2 linked regions of the Homo sapiens genome follow. The protein of the gene in region 2 interacts with the protein of the main gene of each other region in a biochemical or structural test. Each region holds a gene or a part of one and is shown on either strand. Other genes may lie near its edges.

Evidence for each region.
Region 1: the proteins of GDI2 (region 2) and RAB5A form a complex in vitro, tested with the Homo sapiens proteins (one study listed by BioGRID).

The regions. Positions count from the first base shown.
Region 1 is NC_000003.12:19,950,071-19,957,096, forward strand, and holds part of RAB5A (ras-related protein Rab-5A), read left to right. Parts: intron 1-735; 5' UTR 736-828; coding exon 829-991; intron 992-7,026. UniProt on the Homo sapiens protein: The small GTPases Rab are key regulators of intracellular membrane trafficking, from the formation of transport vesicles to their fusion with membranes.
Region 2 is NC_000010.11:5,796,417-5,803,442, reverse strand, and holds part of GDI2 (rab GDP dissociation inhibitor beta), read left to right. Parts: exon of another isoform or gene 1-352; intron 353-2,737; coding exon 2,738-2,845; intron 2,846-6,580; coding exon 6,581-6,680; intron 6,681-7,026. UniProt on the Homo sapiens protein: GDP-dissociation inhibitor preventing the GDP to GTP exchange of most Rab proteins. By keeping these small GTPases in their inactive GDP-bound form regulates intracellular membrane trafficking.

The DNA of each region.
Region 1 (7,026 bases), on a different chromosome or scaffold from region 2:
GTTCGTCTAAAGACTACAAAAAAGTTACAATTATTGTAAGTAAATAAGTCAGTAATAATCACCACATGGAGAACAACTGTTAGCATTTCTGTGTATGGTGTGCTTGAGCAGATGAGGAAACAGTTTTAAGTCTGCCGTTAGGCACACAAACCTGGGAGACTGAAAATATTTGTTGTCCAAAATTACCATTAATTAAATGAAAAATGCATCGTTTAACAGAAAACTTCAAATAATACTAAATTTTAGGATCTGTTCTAAAAGTTTCCCATTTATTAATAACATAATTTTTCTCAAAACAATGTTAATCCAAGTAGCCTGGCTACAGAACTTGAACTCGAGTCATCTCTCAGGTTGCCTGGGTTTGAAACTCGGCTCTGTCACTTCTGTGACAATAACTGTGTGACCTCAATTAAGCTTCTTAACATCTCTGTGCTTGTTTCCTCATTTATAAGGATTGTAATAATATCTCATTTTATAGGATTGTTGAGAAGTTAAGTACTTAAAGCACTGCCTGGCACAAACTTGAAGCTTTGAGGTTAGCCTTTAAAAAAAAAAGTAATTTTGGACTCACATCCTATACCTTTGAATTTCCTTTAAAAGATAGTGACATAATCTAAAGGGCATTGAAGGTCTAGTAGAGTTTAAGATAATCATGCTATAGGCAATATTTAAAGTGATTAATAGTAAATTTGCTTTACTGATTTGTATATTTAATTCATAATTGTTTCTTTACAGGTTTCTTTACCTCCAGAAAGAAGAATATTGGCCCCTTGAATTCTGGAAGTTCATTGAAGAGTCTGAAATTAGGGACTTATTTCAAATTTGGACATGGCTAGTCGAGGCGCAACAAGACCCAACGGGCCAAATACGGGAAATAAAATATGCCAGTTCAAACTAGTACTTCTGGGAGAGTCCGCTGTTGGCAAATCAAGCCTAGTGCTTCGTTTTGTGAAAGGCCAATTTCATGAATTTCAAGAGAGTACCATTGGGGGTGAGATTTTCTTTTTTCCCTGCTTCATTTAATCGAATCATACATTGACAGAAAATATTTTGATGTTCCAATTGTGTGATTATGAATAGCTAAATAAGTCATAGAGTGAAGAAAAGAGCTGTTCAGCTTACCTTAGCTTTAAAACTTGCCTTTATCTTTGTTAAAATGATGTGTTTTTATATTTGATTGTTTGGTTAATCCCTTGTGGTTATATTGTAGCTAAAATACAGATAAAAAACATGAGTAGAATCAGTGTCTCAAGTAATAACATTTGACCTGATACCTATTTCTAGCTAACAACTAGAAGCTTCTTCAAATTAATACAGTACATGTTTGTGCTCAATTATATTGGTTTAAAATGAATAGTAAAAAAGGTAACCTTAAATTCTGATCTATATAACTGAAGTATTTGCAAATAATTATACTTACTTGTAAAATTAAATGTAATTAAATACTGCTAGATGTACTTTTTTTTGGTATTTAAGAGATGGGATCTTGCTGTCGCCTAGGCTGGAGTGCAGTGTCCGGATCATAGCTCACTGCAGACTGCAGCCTGAAACTCTAGGCTCAAATGATCTTCTTGCCTTAGCCTCCCACCAAGTAGTTGGACCTAAGGGTGCATGCCACCATGCCAGGCAAGTTTTTTTTTTTTTTTTTTAAGAGTCAGAGTCTCGCTGTGTTTCCAGGTTGGTCTTGAACTCCTGGCCTCAAGTGAGCCTCCAGCCTCAACCTCCCAGGTAGCTGTGATTACAGGTGCTCCCTGCTGAGATGCATATGTAAGAATGCTCCTAAGCTGAGGGAAGAGAAAAAGTGATTAATGGAAAGGGACATAACAGGAAAATGGAACCTGAAGAAAAAGATGAAAGAAGAAGGGAAAGAGTAGGCACTGACAAGGGTGGTTATGGTGGGACAGAGATGAGGGGAAGGTAAGATGCAGGGTGAAAAGGAGACAACAAACAGTACAGTATTGTCAAGAGAGGACGTGAAATGGGAAAATTGAATTTTAGCTGGACATGGTGGTGCATTCCTGTAGTCCCAGGTATTTGGAGGCTGAGGCAGGATTATTTTAGCTTGGGAGTTCAAGTCTAGCCTGGGCAACATAATGAGAACCCATCTCTTAAAAAAAATTGACTTTAATCAAAGAAACCTATAATTATATAGCAGTGGGACAAGATAGCCTCTTTTGGGCCTCTGTTTCATCTGTGAAATGATGCTTTTCAATTAGATGATGTGTGGCAAGAGCCACACGGTTTGAGATTCACAATATTTTGCAAGTGATATATAATTAAGCAATGCTGTTTTCTAAGGTATTCATGTATATATTTTAACCCCATCCTGTAAAATTAAAGTCAAACTTTGGAAATAAGACAGGTAGATACCAACTGGCATGTGGCAACTTCTTGGAATCTGTCTTTCAGAAGCAAAACTTTATACTGTGCATTTAGTGAATGCTCTTCTGCAAATATACTTGAGAATGTTATTCATAATCTTAGACCCATTCTAGTAAGATAAGTTACAGAAGTCTACTACCTCCTGGCCTTTGTATATCTTGTTAAAATGTTATATTAGAATGTTTTATGTTTTTTCTAATGGCTGAGCATCAGAAAGCATCATGGAGCTTTTATTTTGAGTCAGAAGTCTTGGCATTTTAAAAAATGTTAATACACAATATATTAGACATCTTTGTGATTTTTTTTTTCCCTGAAAGTACATCCACGTGTGATTTTGTTGTTGTTGTTGTTATTGTTAATACATTATATCCAGTTTAATAATGAAATACTACTTCTCAAGAAGGCTTTGCTTCCTCCAGAAGTGATTTGGTCAAAGCTAACTGTCCCATCTAGTAGGAAAAGTTTAAAGACTGCTAGATCATGTCCACCCACTTATTTCACTGTTAATGGAAGCATTTCCCAAAGTATATGTGCATTCTGGGTTAAATAACCTGGGCCACGTAGGTTTGGGACTTACTATATGCTACTCTTCTCCTCTCTCTTTATTATTTTATTAAAACAATAAAAACTCTGAAGTACTGTAGTATAGGACTTAATTCCTGGGGAGCTTTGCAAGAGCTTAAGATTAGAATTTTTATCTTGTTTTGGATAATGCACTTCTAAGTTTATTTTTTCCTAATGATAGCTCAAGAAGGATGTTTAAAAGAAAAATGTAACCCCATATCCTGTGTATCATAAATATATCTCTGATATGTGTGTATCTCTATATAATCTCCATGTAACACCAGTTAGATTGTCTAGATTTCATTAATGAATTTTTCATAAAGATTTTCATTTCTATGTGTAGAGCTTCCTGTTTAAAAACAAAAAGGAATTTGCATCCAAATTTCTGTTAATCCTTTTTTTTTTTTTTTTTGGAGACAAGGTCTCTGTCGCCCAGGCTGGAGTGCAGTGGTGTAGCCCTGGCTCACTGCAACCTCCGCTTCCCAGGATCAAGCAATTCTCATGCCTCAGCCCCCCAAGTAGCTGGGACTACAGGCGCAAGCCACCACTCCTGGCCAATTTTTGTATTTTTAGTAGAGATGGGGTTTCACCATGTCGGTCGGGTTGGTCTTGAACTCCTGGCCTCAAGTGATCTGCCTACCTCGGGCTCTCCAAGTGCTGGGATTACAGGCATGAGCCACTGCCCCTGGCCCAACTTTCTGTTAATCTTTATTGGATACTTTTTCACTGTGCTGACCCCATGTGAATACTATTCAGGAGGTATGACAGTACCATTATGGTTATAGCTGTGGACACTATTCTTTTATGCTCTGTACTCATAGCTCTTCACCTTTAGGAACTAGAGTAGATGTAAAGCATTTAAGAATTTTAAGGTTTGAGCTATTTCATGATCAACCTGAAAGGGCCATAACTTGTAGGTAATACGTATTTTTGTTTTGACTGTCATGTGGTAGAAGTTACCTGAAAAATGAAGCCAACCAACTCTTTTGCATTTCAACTGTTGGTTTATTTTTTTTGAGACGGAATTTCACTACGTGGCCCAGGTTGGAGTGCAGTGGTGTGATCTAGGTTGACTGCAACCTCTACTTCCCAGGTTCAGGCAGTTCTCCTGCCTCAGCCTCCTGAGTAGCTGGGATTACAGGCCCACACCACCAATCCCAGTGAACTTTTGTATTTTTAGTAGAGACAGGGTTTTGCCATCTTGGCCAGGCTGGTCTCAGACTCCTGACCTCAAGTGATCCACCTGCCTCGGCCTCCCAAAGTGCTGGAATTATAGGCGTGAACCTCCACGCCTGGCCTCAACTGTTTAATTTTTCACTTTACTGTTTATATCTCCTAACATGAGTTATTGTTCTGAAGCACTCAAAATTTTAATCTCTATTTGATTGTGTTCGAAGGTGGATATCATATGTTACACTCTTGATTTGTGGATTCTGGATTCATTAAGAATATCAAGATTTCTTCTGTAATTTGTGTGGTTCTTCCTAAATACAATAACTTGATTTACGAATTCCTGTTGCGCTGTGTGCGGTGGCTTGCATCTGTAATCCCAGCACTTTGGGAAGCTGAGGTGGGCAGATCGCTTGAGTCCAGGAGTTTGAGACCAGCCTGGCCAACATAGCAAAACCCCGTCTTTACAAAAAATACGAAAATTAACCGGGCATGGTGGCACACACCTGTAGTCCCAGCTACTGAGAAGGCTGAAATGGGAGAATTGCTTGAACTGAAGAGGCGGAGGTTACAGTGAGCCGAGACTGCACCACCACACTCCAGCCTGGGTGACAGTGAGAACCCTGTCTCAAAAACAAAACAAAACAAAGAATCCCTGTTGCCTCACCATACTTCATGCATCCTACCCCTATAGCACTTCTGATGAAATTGCGTGCCGTAGATTTAGCAATTTAGAGAATTCTAGCTTGTTTGTATGGGTTTAAAGTTTGCATGACATTTATGTTTCTATTGTTGGTCTAAAGTTAGCCCAGAGATTAGCAGGGAGCAGTAGGCTCAGAGAGTTGTCTTCCTTCTTTACTTGGTACTGCATCTCTAGGCTTGGTAGCTCTTCAGTAAATACTCTCAAAAAATACTTATTTTTAAGAAGACATTTATGTGATATTTATAAACAAATTAATCCTCAGTGGTTAGAATATGCAGTGAAATAGCAAGCAGACAATCCTTTTTTTCTCTTCTGAGAAAAGTGCTTCATACCACAGTTACAATTTTGTATGCACTAATCAAAAAATGTGTTATAAACTCTAAAGTTTAGATGATGGAACTGTACATGAAAATAACATTCCTCTTGCTGGTTCTGTGATTTTTGTACATTAGCTTAGAACAGTGGTCCTCAAAGAGCGTTCCCACTTCCAGAAGTAGCTGCATTAACTAGGAACTTGTTAAAATGTAGAATCCCGTGTTGAATCAAAACATTTGGGTGGGACCAACAATCTAGGTTTTAATAAGTTTTCCAGATGATTCTAATGGCATGTTACGTTTGAGTAGTTGATTTTACATTGGTACTAACATTGATTCACCCATACATGGAATAATTGGGGGGTTTTTTTGAGGTGTGGTGTTTGTCAGATTTTTAAAAACATTGTTGACTGGGCGCGGTAGCTCATACCTGTAATCCCAACACTTTGGGAGGCTGAGGCGGGCGGATCACGAGGTCAGGAGTTCGAGACCAGCTTGCCAATGTGATGAAACCCTGTCTCTGCTAAAAATACAAAAATTAGCCAGGCATGGTGGCGTGCGCCTGTAGTCCCAGCTACTTGGGAGGCTGAGGCAGGAGATTCGCTTGAACCCAGGAGGCGGAGGAGGTTGTTGCAATGAGCCGAGATCATGCCATTGCACTCCAGCCTGGGTGTCTCAGCGAGACTCCGTCTTAAAAAAAAAATTGTTCATGCAACTAACCTAGTTTGAGAATTACATGTATTATGTACTGCTCACATTACATGTTATCTGTATCTCTTTATAGGAGAATGCCTTCCTGTTAGCCACCTGCCAGACATCTTTAGGAAAGTATGATCCCTCTGTCCAATCAAGAGTATTCTGCTTTTTCTCTACTTAGGGAGTACCCATAGTTTTCAGTCATCTGTACCACTGCTGCTCTCCTTTCTTGTCACAAATGATCAAGGCCTGATAATACACAAAATTAATTAAGAAATTTAGTGTAGGCCGGGCGCAGTGGCTCATGCCTGTAATCCCAGCACTTTGGGAGGGTGCCAGCACACTGGCAGATCACGAGGTCAGGAGTTCGAGACCAGCCTGGCCAACATGGTAAAAATACCAGAATTAGCTAGGCGTGGTGGTGGGTGCCTATAACCCCAGCTACTCAGGATGCTGAGGCAGGAGAAACATTTGAACCCAGGAAGCGGAGGTTGCAGTGAGCCGAGATCGCGCCATTGCACTCCAGCCTGGGCGACAGGGCGAGACTCCGTCTCAAAAAAAAGGAAATTTAGTGCAATTATTAACTCTTAAGTGAAGTGCTGTTTCTACTTACATATTTAACATCCATCTAAATTGGTTAGCATGGCCAACTAGTTGTTTTTAGTCTAAAACAACCTGTAACAGGAATAAAAGTTACTGTTAAAATGAAGAAAAACAAGGCTTATTTCAAAGTTATTATTAACATACTATTTTACCTAACAATTTATGGCCAAGTCATTCTAAAGAATAAACTATTGTGGTTAAGAGAGACTGTATCCAGATTGAAGTTTTTACCACAATGCCTGGCACAGTAAAAGGTTTATTAAATTATAGCTATTACAGTTACCATCACCACTGTTAACTTTTGGCTGAATCGTTTTGTCATTGTTGATATTTTTGTTGTTTGGTCATGACATACTATTATCTTGAGATGGTAGCTGTTACACCTAGTGCATAGCGTTTGATTTAGAAAATTTGAAGATTTGAAAAATTTTGTGTTTTTTTTCCTTTTTTTTTTTTTTTTTAAACAGCCTGCTCTGTTGCCCAGGCTGGTGTACAGTGGTGGCATCAAAGCTCACTGCAGCCTTGACGTGGCCTCAAGTGGTCCTCCCAGGTAGCTGGGACTGACTATAGGCATGCACCCCACACTTGGCTAAT
Region 2 (7,026 bases):
GTACTTTTTTTTTGTTATTGAGATAGGATCTCACTTTGTCACCCAGGCTGAAGTGCAGTGGCCTTATCACGGCTCACTGCACCTTTGCCCTCATGGGTTCAAGTAATCCTCCCACCTCTCAGCCTCTTGAGTAGCAGGGACTACAGGTGCTCACCACCACACCCAGCTAATTTTTGTATTTTTTGCAGAGATAGGGTTTTGCCCTGTTGCCCAGACTGGTCTCCATCCAACTCCTGGGCTTAAGCCATCTGCCTGAGTATATTTTCTAAAACAAAATTGTGAGAAGACTATCAATATTTCACGTTTTCTGCAAATCCTTTAATGTCTGGCTTAATAAAACTGAATTCACATACATGCTTCTGTGTTCAGTTCTGTTGCGATATATTGTCTAGGCTGAAGTATATGAAAACAGGTCTCACACAGACATGTAATTGGAAAAGGGAGGAGTAATTTAAATATAGCCTTTCAGGTTATTGTAGATATTCTTTGGTTTACACAAAAGCACAAGTGGTAGTTTTTAAGAGATAGCAGTATGAAATCTGAAGCCACATTAATGAATGTTTTATATTCTGATATATTAACACCCACTGATCTAGCTTGCACTTTGAATTCCTCTTTTTTCCTCCTGTGTGATTTTGTAATTTCATTCACCCGTTATTTGGAAAACAAGGTTTACTCTGAGTAAAGTGGGTCTTAATGTTGACATGTTTCATTTTACATTATCAAAACATCATATTTGTTAGTATTGTCACTGATAATGTTAGAAAAGTTCTTCATGTATTGGGGAACCTGACGTGTGCCCATGGTGGTAGTTGTAAGTTTTCCATAATTCTTTTTTTTTTTTTGAGATGGAGTCTTGCTCTGACACCAGGCTGGAGTGCAGTGGCGCGATCTCGGCTCACTGCAGCCTCCAACTCCCTGGTTCAAGCGATTCTCCTGCCTCAGCCTCCCGAGTAGCTGGGATTACAGGCATGCGCCACCATGCCCAGCTAAGTTTTGTATTTTTAGTAGAGATGGGGTTTCACCATGTTGGCCAGGATGGTCTCAATCTCCTGACCTTGTGATCCACCCGCCTCGGCCTCTCAAAGTGCTTGGATTACAGGTGTGAGCAGCTGTGCCCGGCCAAGTTTTCGGTAATTCTAATTTTCATTTAAAATTTGACTTATTGGCAGCACGTGTCAGTTATTTTCCTTTAGGTTTTCTTTGAGAAAATGTCAAATACCTAAATCTGAATAATCATAGTTTGTTGGTCAGTTCTTTCAAATAAAAATGATTATTCATAAAAAAAAGCGGCTAGTTCAGCTTACAGATCAGTGGCACAGGTTTTCCCTGAGCTGAAGTGCTGTCTGTATTCTTCCCATTTTTTCACACACAATGTTTAAAAGATGACTATTGAAGGGTATATGTTTATTAAATAACTTTATTAATTCTTTTTGCTACTCAGTCTTGCTCTGTCACCCAGGCTGGAGTGCAGTGGCGTGGTCTCAGCTCACAGCAGCCTCTGCCTCCTGGGTTCAAGCAGTTCTGCCTCAGCCTCCTGAGTTGCTGGAATTACAGGCATGCACCACCATGCCCTGCTAATTTTTGTGTATTTAGTAGAGACAGGGTTTCACCGTATTGCCCAGGCTGGTCTGAAATTCCTGGGTTCAAGCATTACACCCACCTCGGCCTCCCGAAGTGCTGGGATTGCAGGTGTGAGCCACCATGCCTGGCCAATAAAGTTACTTTTTAATGCTTTTATCAAGGACATCCTTTTTTTTGTTCTTGAGATGGAGTTTAGCTCTTGTTGCCCAGGCTGGAGTGCAGTGGTGTGATCTTGGTTCACCACAACCTCTGCCTCCCAGGTTCAAGCAATTCACCTGCCTTGGCCTCTTGAATAGCTAGGATTACAGGCATGTGCCACCATGCCCGGCTAATTTTGTATTTTTACTAGAGATGTGGTTTCTCCATGTTGGTGAGGCTGGTCTTGCTCTTCTGACCTCAGGTGATCCACCTCCCCTGGCTTCCCAAAGTGCTGGGGATTACAGGCGTGAGCCACTGTGCCCACCCTATCAAGGACATCCTTAAATGAATGCCTGGCGATGAAGACTGTAATGATGACTAGTATAGTTTAGAGCCCTGTCTTAATTTGTTTTATCCACCATTGATTTTACATCATCAGTGGAAGTGTCAACACTGAAAAGGTGACTAGGCTGGGCACGATGGCTTACGCCTGTAATCCCAGCACTTTGGGAGGCTGAGGCGGGAGGATCACCTGAGGTCAGGAGTTCAAGACCAGCCTGGCCAACATGGTGAAACCCTGTCTCTGCTAAAAATACAAAAAATTAGCCGGGTGTGGTGGCGGGCACCTGTAATCCCACTTACTCAAGAGGCTGAGGCAGGAGAACTGCTTGAATCCTTGGAGGTAGAGGTTGCAATGAGCTGAGATTGCGCCATTGCACTCCTGCCTGGGCAAGAAGAGTGAAACTCTATCTCAAAAAATAAATAAAAAAAAAAAATTAAAAGGTGACTAATGTCTTAGTGTTATTATGAAACAGTTTTAATCTTGGGATGCATAGGAGCCCACAGACCACACCTGGACCCCTGGTTTCTTAAGGGCTTTCTTCATAAATTATGTCATGTTGCATGAATATAAGTGTAATTACTAAGAGAATGTGTAATGGCAGGCTTGAAAAAAATGATCTGTTTTAAATATGCTGTAGAACTTTCTTTTCAAGGTACTATGCTTTTTCTATAGGAATGTATCCTGTCAGGTATAATGTCAGTGAATGGCAAGAAAGTTCTTCATATGGATCGAAACCCTTACTACGGAGGAGAGAGTGCATCTATAACACCATTGGAAGATGTAAGTGTTAGTCAAATTTCATACGCCTCTCACACTTTGTGAGTATTTCACTTGTGAATCTCTACCTTATTCCTTAGAGATGGTCTTAATTTTGTTTTGTTAAATGGAATATCTGGAGCACTGTTTTTCAGGAGCTTCTGGTTTGAAGCTCATAGAAATTTACATTTTGACTTTTGTTGCTATGTGGAGCAGTTATCTCTTAGCATTAACAGAGAATAGTCTAGGAAGGGAGGGTAGAGGATCGTCTGATGTGCCAGCGCAAGTCCAGTGCTTTCCTCATGGCTTTATTTATTTTCTCAGTCCCTCAAAGATTTTTTTTTTAATCTCCATTTAACATAGTCTCTGTGGGGTTAAAATCTGAGATGGGTTGTAAACCCAAGTTACATGACTACAAAGCTTAGTTCCTTTTGCTATACTGCCTTGTTTCCTACTTTTTTTGAACGTGGACACATAGCATTTCCACAGTGTGTTTTAATATATTGATTGTTTTTCTGCGTGAGGTTTGTTGAACACCTACGTATATGGATATGATGTGTACTGTGTCTTATGGGAGATAGATATCATCAATGACTTTAATCAGTGACTTATTAGACAATACTTACCAAAAAGGATTTTTTTCTATATTCAGTAATACTGAAAAGTTTAAAGAATAATACGATGTATAAAAAAATCTTCCATCAGAGTTCAGCAGTTAAAGTTTGCTGTATTTTTTTCATGTCTCTTTTTTTGTTACTGGTTTTGATCCATTGAAAGTGATAAGACATCATGAGGCTTGAGCAAAATATTTCAGCATTCATCTGCTAAGAATAACATTCTCCTGCATAAGCATAATACCATTATATCATATCCAGAACCATATTCAAATTTCCCAGTGGTCCCAGTAATCTCTTACGTAGCTGTTTGTATTTGGTATAATTTTCTCTTTATTCTCTTATTTATTTTTCTGGAGACAGAATCTTGCTCTGCCGCCCAGGCTGGAGTGCAGTGGCACAGTCTCGCCTCCCTATGGCTTCCACCTTCTGGGTTCAGGTGATTCTTCTGCCTCAGCCTCCCAAGTAGCTGGGATTAAAGGCGTGCACCACCATGCCTGGCTAATTTTTGTATTTTTAGTAGAGACGGGGTTCCACCATGATGGCCAGGCTGGTCTGGAACCCCTGACCTCATGTGATCTGTCTGCCTTGGCCTCCCAAACTGCTGGGATTACAGGCATGAGCCACCACGCCCGAGCGCTTTATTCTTTGTTGTTGTTGTTTGTTTTTAAGAGACAGGGCCTTGCCCTGTTGCCCAGGCTGAAGTGCAGCAGTGCGATCGTAGCTTGCTGTAGCCTTGAACTCCTGGGCTCAAACGATCCTCCTGTATCAGCCTCCTAAGTAGCGGGGCTAAAGATGCATACCACCTGCCTGGCTTATTTTATTTTTTGTAGAGATGGGGTCTCTCTGTGTTGCCCAGGCTGGTCTCAAACTCCTGGCCTCAAGTGATCCTCCTACCTTGGTTTCCCAAAGTGTTGGGATTATAGGTGAGAGCCACCATGCCTGGGCACCTCTTTATTTTCTTAATCTACAAATCTCCTCACAATTTTTTTCTTTTCTTAATTTTGTTTTATTTTATTTTTATTTTTATTTTTTTGAGACAGTCTTGCTCTGTTGTCCAAGCTGATGTGTAGTGGTGCAGTCTCGGCTCACTGCAACCTCCATCTCTTGGGTTCAAGTGATTTTCATGCTCAGCCTTCTGAGTAGCTGGGATTACAGGTGTGGACCACCATGCCTGGCTAATTTTTTGTATTTTTAGTAGAGATGGGGATTTCTTCTTGTTGGCCATGCTGGTCTCGAACTCCTCAAATGATCTGCCTGCCTTGGCCTTCCAAAGTGCTGCGGTTACAGGTGTGAGCCTCTGTGCCTGGCCTAGTATATTTCTTAGCTGATCTTCAATACAATGAGTAAGATTTCTTTTCTTTTTTTTCTCCCCAGATGTATTGAGGGAGTCATGAATTTTTTCTTTTTTTTTTTTTTGAGATGGAGTCTTTCTCTGTCACCCAGGCTGCAGTGCAGTGGCACGATCTTAGCTCAGTGCAACCTCCACCTCCTAGGCTCAAACGATTCTCGTGCCTCAGCCTCCCGAGTAGCTGGAATTACAGGCGTACATCATCACGTCTGGCTAATTTTTTGTATTTCTGGTAGAGGTGGGGTTTCACCATGTTGATCAGGCTGGTCTCGATCTCCTGGTCTCAGGTGATCTGCCTGCCTTGGCCTCACAAAGTGCTGGAATTACAGGCATGAGCCACCGCACCCAGCCAGAATTTTTATTGAATAAATACTTACTAATTTTGCTTATTCTTTTCCACCTTAGCAGTAGGATTCATGAGCTCAAGTGACTGTTCTCTAACTTTATAAGCTTTTTGAAATCTGAGCTTCATTTCAATTCATGTGAATTATAAATTAATTTGAGTATTCTTACCACAAAACATCATAAAAGAACAAAAGGACAATTTTGGAGGTGATGGATATGATTGGTACCTTATGGTGATGTTATGGGTGTACCTTGTGTCTAGACTCACCAAAATGTATGCAGGAAGTAGGCAGTTCTTTATGTATCAGTTATACCTCAGTAAAGCTCAAAAATTATAAATGAACTAGAACTAATTTTAATTATCTTTTCTGATTAGGAAGAATCTAAGGTTTATTTTGAATTCCTTACATAATACAAAAGCAAAATTAAGCCTTTGATAGCTTTTTATTTGGGAGAGAATGAATTTAGATGATTGCTATTTGTCAGTGACACCCTAGTTCTGCATATACAGTCCGTATAGAGAACTATACAGTGTCATTGACAAATAATCTTGTTTTATTTATTTATTTCTTGAGATGGAGTCTTGCTTTGTCACTCAGGCTGGAGTACAGTGGTGCCATCCCAGCTCACTGCAACCTCCACCTCCCAGATTCATGTGATTCTCCACCTCCCAGATTCATGTGATTCTCCTGCCTCAGCCTCTCGAGTAGCTGGGCTTACAGGCACACACCACACCCCGCTAATTTTTTTTTTTTTTTTTTTTTTTTTGAGATGGAGTCTCACTCTGTCACTAGGCTGGAGTGCAGTCACGCTATCTCGGCTCACTGCAACCTCTGCCTCGCATGTTGAAACGATTCTCCTGCCTCAGCCTCCCGAGTAGCTGGGATTACAGGCATCTGCCACCATACCTGGCTAATTTTTGTATTTTCAGTAGAGATGGGGTTTCACCATCTTGGCCTGGCTTTTCTTGTACTCCTGACCTCCTGATCCACCCGCCTCGGCCTCCCAAAGTGTTTGGGATTACAGGCATGAGCCACCATGCTTGGCCAATTTTTGTATTTTTAGTAGAGACGGGGTTTCACTATGTTGGTCAGGCTGGTCTCAAACTCCTGACCTCAAGGGATCCACCCGCCTCATGGATTACAAAGTGCTGGGATTACAGGCATGAGCCATTGCGTCTGGCCTTGTTTTATATTCTTTCTTTTCTGCTAGTGAAAAACCTTACTTCTGCCATATTTGTTAATTTTAACATTTATGAGTTTAGTAATTAATTTACATATATATTGGACCTTGCTAAAAATTTTATCTGATAAAAGATGAAATGCCCTTATACTTTACTAGCATGGTGGTGTTTAGTTATACTAAAAGCACTTAATAAAAAATATGTACATATTGTAATAAAAAATTAAATTTTGTTAACATTATGGCTATGTTTTTCCTTGCTTTTAGTTATACAAAAGATTTAAAATACCAGGATCACCACCCGAGTCAATGGGGAGAGGAAGAGACTGGAATGTTGACTTGATTCCCAAGTTCCTTATGGCTAATGGTAAAGAATTTCTAACTTAAATTTATGACAGTACTTTGATTACAATTTTAATATCAAAACTAACTTTTGACAGAGTACTATTCTGGGTATGAGGAACTGGATTTTGTTGAATGAAACAGCATGGTGAGTAACATGGTCCATTAGATGTCTGGAGTCAATAAGTTAGGAAAGGAAGGAAGGGGTTGTGACTTACTAGTAATTGGTTCTGGAGAAACAAATGATGCTGTGGCATAATACATAACAAGATTGTAAGCCTTTGGCACAGACTTACCTGTTGATGCTTATGACAGTCTTAAATAACTGGGCCTTTTGAAACAGCATTATTTTAATGTTTTTCTAGTTTGTA